Homo sapiens: one gene and its partner. The protein of the gene in region 1 interacts with the protein of each later gene in a biochemical or structural test. Each region holds a gene or a part of one and is shown on either strand. Other genes may lie near its edges.

What was found. The genes of interacting proteins can lie anywhere in the genome.
Region 2: the proteins of ERBB4 (region 1) and ABL1 form a complex in vitro, tested with the Homo sapiens proteins (2 studies listed by BioGRID and IntAct, with this or other methods).

Annotation. Positions count from the first base shown.
Region 1 is NC_000002.12:212,537,383-212,541,130, forward strand, and holds the start of ERBB4 (receptor tyrosine-protein kinase erbB-4 isoform JM-a/CYT-1 precursor), read right to left. Parts: upstream 1,421-3,748; 5' UTR 1,149-1,420; coding exon 1,067-1,148; intron 1-1,066. UniProt on the Homo sapiens protein: Tyrosine-protein kinase that plays an essential role as cell surface receptor for neuregulins and EGF family members and regulates development of the heart, the central nervous system and the mammary gland, gene transcription, cell proliferation, differentiation, migration and apoptosis.
Region 2 is NC_000009.12:130,852,254-130,856,001, reverse strand, and holds part of ABL1 (tyrosine-protein kinase ABL1), read right to left. Parts: intron 1,939-3,748; coding exon 1,765-1,938; intron 1,202-1,764; coding exon 906-1,201; intron 1-905. UniProt on the Homo sapiens protein: Non-receptor tyrosine-protein kinase that plays a role in many key processes linked to cell growth and survival such as cytoskeleton remodeling in response to extracellular stimuli, cell motility and adhesion, receptor endocytosis, autophagy, DNA damage response and apoptosis.

The DNA of each region.
Region 1 (3,748 bases):
CATCCCCAGGAAACTCTAGTGTCAGAAACTTTGAGCTCCATTGCACTGCAGGTGCTGTCATTAGTCCTGCAAGCCGTGGCGGGCCAGCCCCGCCGCGCTGCCTCTCGGGGTCAATTAGCCCTTTGCCTGCCCAGGTACCTGGGGCTCGAGCTCTCCAGCAAGCAGTGGCCGCGCACCCATCGCCGCTGCCGCTTTCGCCTCGGGTGGATCCAGTGACCCGCAGGCTCGGCAGCCTGGCCGGGCAGTAAACAGACAAGTTTGAAGGACTCCGGCCAATAGCAAGTTGAACTACAGGAAGAACTCTTCCCGGAGCCAAACACGGCAACCGACGGGAAGGCCGGGCTTCTGGCTCAAGTGTGCCAAGCCTTTTTTTTTTTTTTTAAGAGGTCAGGCAGGCGAGTAAGCGCCCCTCAAGTCAATGGGGAGAGGGCTCCGGGAAGCCGGCGGAAGAGGCCCAGAACTCCGGGCCCCGGACCGAGGCGCGCCCGCCTGCTGCACTCCGGCTGCCCGGGCTGGGCGCGAGTTGCGTCTGACGCCACAAGGCTCGGGCGACTGGGGGCGCAGCGGTCGCCAGCAGCACACACAGGTGCAAAGCCCGATTTTCTGAGCGCCGCTCTCCACCGCCCTTCGGGCTCGGCTCGGGAGAGGCCCAGCCAGCACCGCCCCAGGACCGCGGCCCCGGCGGTGCGGGTTCTGCCCTCGGGGACCCGACAGGGACAGAAGAGTCTCCTCTGACTGGGGATTTGGGTCTCCCATGTCCCGAACAACAGGCGCCACCAGAAGGGATCCCGCTTAGGCTCCCAAACAAAACGCTCGGGAAAGAAAAGCAGGGGGTTAAGGAGAGAAAAGAGGGACTCAGAGTGATTTTTCACGATAAATAAAGCAAACGCACACATACAGGGTAAGTTTCAAATGGAAAGAGGGGTGACCGAAAGCCCAGGGAAGAGGCCCCGGTCAAGCGGTCCCTCCACGCCTCCCGGGATGGGTGAAGAGGGCAGGGGAGCCACTCGAGGCAGCCCCGCCGGCGGCTGCAGGTTCGGCGACCGGAGTGCCAGAAGGAACCCACCTGACTGAGAATCGCTGGGCTGGACGGTCCCCGCCGCCACGAGAAGGCTCACCCAGACCCAAAGTCCTGTCGCCGGCTTCATTTTTTGGAAGTCTCAGATCCCGTGCTGACAATTACATGTCCAAATGGCATATCCCCCTTTCGGGCACGCGGAGGAGATCCCCCAGCCGGGCGCGCGTGGGGGTGCGAGGGGGGCGGGCGCGGCGCGCGCGGTGTGGCGACTCCCAGGGCGGGCGACCGAGTCCGCGCCCGCGGGTCCAGGGCCGGGGCCCGAGGAGGGGGCGAGTGTGAGCGCGTGTGTGCGCGTGTGGGAGTGTGCTCGGTGTGTGCGCTTGGCGCTCTGGGCCGGACTGTGCAGCTATTTCCCCGCGTGAGCCTTCGCTTGCTCGCTCCCTCCTCACTTTCTCTCTCTCTCACTGGTTGGTCAACAATAAAAAAGGAAGGGGGGCGAAAGGTTTCCAAAAAAAGTTGATTGCAAAGAGGCGGTAGGTTTCCGGCCTCTCCCCGCAGCCGGGCTATGTTCTGCTCCTTCTTCAGTTTCCTTGCACCTCCAGTCCAAATCGGGAGGGGAGCGGGGCGGGGGGAGCTTCTCGCTTCTCCCCGGATCCCGTCCTTCTTTTTCCTCTCAGCTTTCCTCACACTTGTCCGGCGGCTGCGGTAATTAAAGCTCCGAGCGTCATTTCCAGCGCTCCGCGGTCTCCAGCTGCAGCCCACAGAGAAATTAATAAGACTCCAGAAAAAAAAAAAAAAAAGGTGCGGGGGGCGGTGGGAATAAAACAACCCTCCACGCAACCAGGCCGGCTCTGCTCAGCCGCGCAAACCCCGCCCATGCTCTGACCCAACTAGCCACGCCCTTCCCCCCCCCTTCCAAAGGGAAATCTTATTGGCTCAGCCACTCCCCAAAATCCTGGGCCTCCGGAGTTGGGAAAACACCTGTCAGGGAAAGGGAGCCTCTTGGTGGGGGCAGGGGAAGCTGGATTTAAAGGGCTCACCGAAGCCATGCACTGAAGCACTCGTCTTCCCTCCCTGGCAGAGGCCTGGGACAGCTGGCCTGCTGAGTGGACGGACCATTGGAGGGCCGCTTACGGAAATTTTTTTTTTTTTTAAACAAGAAAGTCAGCATTTTCTCCGTTGCCCCACGGTGCTCATCTACAGACAAGACTTTCCCTAGAAATAAAAGTCAATGTTGCTTTCAGCAAAAAGCCTCCGCCCGCAGTACTCTGCCACTCATGGTCCACAATTAGAAAGTACTTTAAAAGTGTGTACAGCAAGTAACTGGTAGCCCCTGAGGATTAGGTAGTGGTAGGGGTATAATCACCGCCCCGCCTCCCGCCCCCAGTTATGCCATCTCTCCGATTACTCCCACATTTCTAAACTGACCAACATTGAGCCAAACTAAACTTTCACATTTATAAAGGCATATCCTTTGATTTTTAGATTTTATGTTTTTTTTTCACCTTTGGAGTTCATTCTTATTAAGCAGATTCTAGTCCAAAGCCACTGATTTGATCTTAAAGGGCTAGAAATTGTCCCCAGCCTGAAAGAATTTAAGGAGGCCACATCAGAACATAATTAACCTTAAATGATTCTGTTTATTCTACAGTAGACCCAGCTTTAGGCCCCTTCCTTGTCCTCACTCTGCACATTCATGGTCCCTAATCTGGAGGTCATTGCTAGTTACGAAAGTCTCTGACCTTTTCTGAATCTAAAATATTCTGGGACTGGGTCATTTCAATGTACATATCCCTTGCCTTTTACAGCTCTGAAACCGCACCCTGGCAAGGGCCAGAATCTGCTGGGGGTAGTTATTGGTTTGCTATTTGTACAGGCATTCTATGTATGAATCACTTTCCTTTTTTGGTTTTTCTAGAAGCAGCAAATATATAAATAAAAAGTATCAGGGGAGCTTAAAAATCAAACCACCCTGCCTTTCATTTGAGACCTTGATCTCCATTTCCCACTCTCTTATCTATAGCCCCATCCCTTAAGAATTTCCATGGAGCTGAGAACAGATAGGAGGTACAGATGCCTGAAGCCTGAAGCTTTCCCTTTCTTAGACCCACAGCAAATAACAGGCTCCATGAAGACGCCCAACAAGCTGAGCGTGCGGTTTTACCAGAAGCAGCCTAGGGCAGAGAGGAACTAAGCCTAGAGCAGATGACGGAGACTTGACCAGAATGGTACTGATTGCAGCAAAACTGTGCACACTGCTCTTTGGGATTATCTTTGTTTTCTTTTCTTTTCTTTTTTTTAATTACTCTTTCTCTCTGTTTTCTCTTCTTTCATTCAATCTCTTCTCATTCCCCTTGTCTTAAATCCTTTTGAAATTCTCAGGCACCTCTCTTCCATAAAAGCTACTTCTTTTCAAAACTTACTTTCTGTCCCTAGAATGACAATTTAAATGAGAAAAACATCTTCCTTTTGTAAAAGTTTAAGTCTCTGTAGTAAAAAAAAAAAAAAAGTCTGGTTTCTGATGGCAATTATGTTGCACGAAGTGAAGGAATGGGCCAGGTGTGGTGGCTCATGCTTGTAATTCTAGCATTTTGGGAGGCTGAAGTGGGAGGATCCCTTGAGGCCAGAAGTTCCAGACCAACCTGGGCAACATAGTGAGACCTCAACTCTACCTTTTTTTTTTTTTTTTTTTAATGAGCTGGGTATGGTGGTGCACACCTGTAGTCTTAG
Region 2 (3,748 bases), on another chromosome or scaffold:
AGAGGTTGCAGTGAGCCAAGATCGCACCACTGTACTCCAGCCTGGGTGACAGGGCAAGACTCCATCTCAAAAACAAACAAACAAACAAACATACACCATCGGGACCACCTATCAACACTGTACCTCAACTACAGCCTGGTGCAGTAGAATAAACTGTGGGATCCAAGCCTATTCCATCAGTGACTCACTAGGTTGACATCGGGCAAGATCTCTTTATGCCTCCCTTTCTTTAATGCAAAGATGCAGGTATTATAGCAATACCTCAGTCAATGTTAACTCCTCCCTTCTCTTTATGGACTCTTAAGGATTATTTATATGAAGACCACAAAATCATATAGGCCACCTCCCTTACAACACCACACTTTGGGTTTGGTAAGCTGTGGGTTTGATCCCGGTTTTCACTGAAAACTGCATGCGTGTATGCACGTATGTCCACACACCTCTCCATGAATGTGTTCATCCGCAGGAAGAAGCCCACGTGCCAGGCGTCTGTGGGGGAGGGGATAGTAAAGTGGTCTTTCGCTCTAAGAAAGGTTATCTATTATTTGAATTTTTCTCGTTGGGGATGATTTCTATCATTATAAAATATTTTTTTTAAAGGAAGAATCTTATTGTAAAAAATGTGTCCAAAACCCAACAGATATTCCTCCTATTTTAAGTAACTTGCTAACAACAAAACTCTAGCAAGACAATAAGAGAATCATACCAGTCCCAGGAACTTGTAATATCACAGAACGGATCCTCAATAAAGGGTCTTCATAAGGCTAATGGAATGACTCCCACCTGAAAGATTCTTTAAACATCTTCTTGGTTGAGCTTTCTTGCAATAATTTATCAATCCGACAGCAGGACCTCTGGTTCCCCTGCCCTGGGCCCATCAGCGCCCCCTGCCAAGGGTCCCCTACCTTGCCATCAGAAGCAGTGTTGATCCTGTAATGGTACACCCTCCCTTCGTATCTCAGCGAGATGGACCTCTGGCCAGGACTGCTCTCACTCTCACGCACCAAGAAGCTGCCATTGATCCCGCTGCTCAGCAGATACTCAGCGGCATTGCGGGACACAGGCCCATGGTACCAGGAGTGTTTCTCCAGACTGTTGACTGGCGTGATGTAGTTGCTTGGGACCCAGCCTTGGCCATTTTTGGTTTGGGCTTCACACCATTCCCCATTGTGATTATAGCCTAAGACCCGGAGCTTTTCACCTGAGAAGAAAGGAACCAAATCAGACATATCAGCTTTGGAAACCAGCTTCGTTCTTTTTCATTGATTCTTGTGTAACTACTAAAAATCTCCAAATTCCTAAATACCAATTTCATTTTAACAAGTCCACATAAAGATATGCATTTATAAGTGTATGAGAATTCACGTTTACATTTGAAGCTTCCTGTTTGTACTGAACAGATAGGTAAGTGTATAGCCTCAGTTTTTATAAATCAATTATGTTTATTCAAGTGCTCTGTTCCTAATATAAGACATTTTAGGGAAATAATGCTTTTTCTTAGGGGAAAAATTGCGTTCAGTATTTTGTCCAGCTGTCCTTTTCAGTATAAAAAATAGGGCAAGTTCTGTTTTTGCCCAGGGCTATTGTACAAGAACTCCTCTAAGGAGAGTCGACTCCCTTAGAAACATGCAGTTGTTGTTTTGGATATCCCTGCAGTCCAGATTTCAAAGCTGCTCCTTTAACGAGCAAAGGGTGGTAGGTCAAACCGCAATTCCCAGATTTCTATCTCCTGCAACCACCACTAGCTGCCCACAACCCTTTTACCTTTAGTTATGCTTAGAGTGTTATCTCCACTGGCCACAAAATCATACAGTGCAACGAAAAGGTTGGGGTCATTTTCACTGGGTCCAGCGAGAAGGTTTTCCTTGGAGTTCCAACGAGCGGCTTCACTCAGACCCTGAGGCTCAAAGTCAGATGCTACTGGCCGCTGAAGGGCTTCTGGAAGAGAAAGGGGGGAACAGAAAAAAGAAAAAGGAAGAGAAAATTGGGAGAAAAAATTAGTTTTATTCTCAGAAGCAAAAATATTTGTGTTTCCAACATTACACATTCCTATTTCATTTCTTAACATCTGTACATACTATTATCATTAAGGTGGTTTTTAAAAAACTCTTCCTTTACTAAATCTTGTGGAAATTAAGTATTTTCACTCCAAGGTGGTAATTATTGTTCCCCAATAGTTTGAGCTTCTAAAATTCATGGATTCAATATGACTTTAGTCAAATTAAAACAGTCTATCCACATATGCATTTGCCTTTGCTTAAAATATGCAATGAAAATTTCTTGCTTTAGCCGGGCATGGTGGCTCACGCCCGTAATCCCAGCACTTTGGGAGGCCAAGGTGGGTGGATCACCTGAGTTCAGGAGTTTGAGACCAACTTGACCAACATGGTGAAACCCTGTCTCCATTAGACATACAAAAATTAGCCGGGCATGGTGACGCACACCTGTAGTCCCAGCTACTCAGGAGGCTGAGGCAGGAGAATCGCTTGAACCCAGGAGGTGGAGGTCTCAGTGAGCAGAGATTGCGCCACTGCACTCCAGCCTGGGTAACGAGAAACTCCGTGTCAAAAAAAAAAGCCGGGGGTGGATCATGAGGTCAGGAGTTCAAGACCAACCTGACCAACACAGTGAAATCCTGTCTTTACTACAAATACAAAAATCAGCCGGGCATGGTGGCAGGTGCCTGTAGTCCCAGCTACTTGGGAGGCTGAGGCAGGAGAATTGCTTGAACCTGGGAGGCGGAGGTTGCAGTGAGCCAAGATCGTGCCACTGTACTCCAGCCTGGGTGACAGAGTGAGACTCCATCTCAAAAAAAAAAAAAAAAAAAAAAAGAAAAGTCAAATCGTACAGAAGGGCTTAAAATGAAAGACAAATACTTTCTATCCCAGTCCTCTCCGCTCCCAGAGGCAGAGCTGTTTTTTTGGTGATCACCCCCACCTCTCTAAGTACCAGCTAGATCACTGGAGTCCTATTCTCCGTAACAGACGCACACCTTCACTGCCTGTTCTTCCAACTAGGACAGCGTCTCTGAGGACTTACTTCACAAGACAAGGCTATTAACACACCCCACCCGTCCTTCCAGCTTTCTTGCCCCCACGACCACCCTCAAATATGTTCTTCTGTAAATTTTTTTTTTTAACCTTGTGGCAATTATTATTACAGAATAGAAAAAACTGTTACTAAACTTCCATGTTTTGTCTGAAACAGATTCTAAAAGTTGGAAATCAATCAACAGCTCTTAAATTAGAAAATGTGTGAATATTATTCATTACAGGGTCAAATAGGTTATTTGTTCCTGAAGTTTCTTCTTGCCTTTTTTTTTTGAACAGGGCTCAAACGCTCCAGAATTTCTTTGTGATAAAGACAACGTGTAGACGAGTTCTTGCAAACCAGCAAATCAAATAACCTCAAGTAGATCTTACAGTTGAAGAACATTGTGGAGTGAAATCCAAAATACTCATTTAAGGAACTACAATTTAAAAATCACTAACTGGGCCAGGCACAGTAGCTCATGCCTGTAACCCTAGAACATTGGGAGGCTGAGGCAGGCAGATTGCCTGAGCCTGAGCTCAGGAGTTCAAAACCAACCTGGGCAACACGGTGAAACCCCGTCACTACTAAAATAGAAAAAACTAGCCGGGCATGGTGGCGGGCGCCTGTAGTTCCAGCTACTAGTCCCAGCTACTCAGGAGGCTGAGGTAGGAGAATCGCTTGAGTCTGGGAGGCGGAGGTTGCAGTGAGCTGAGAT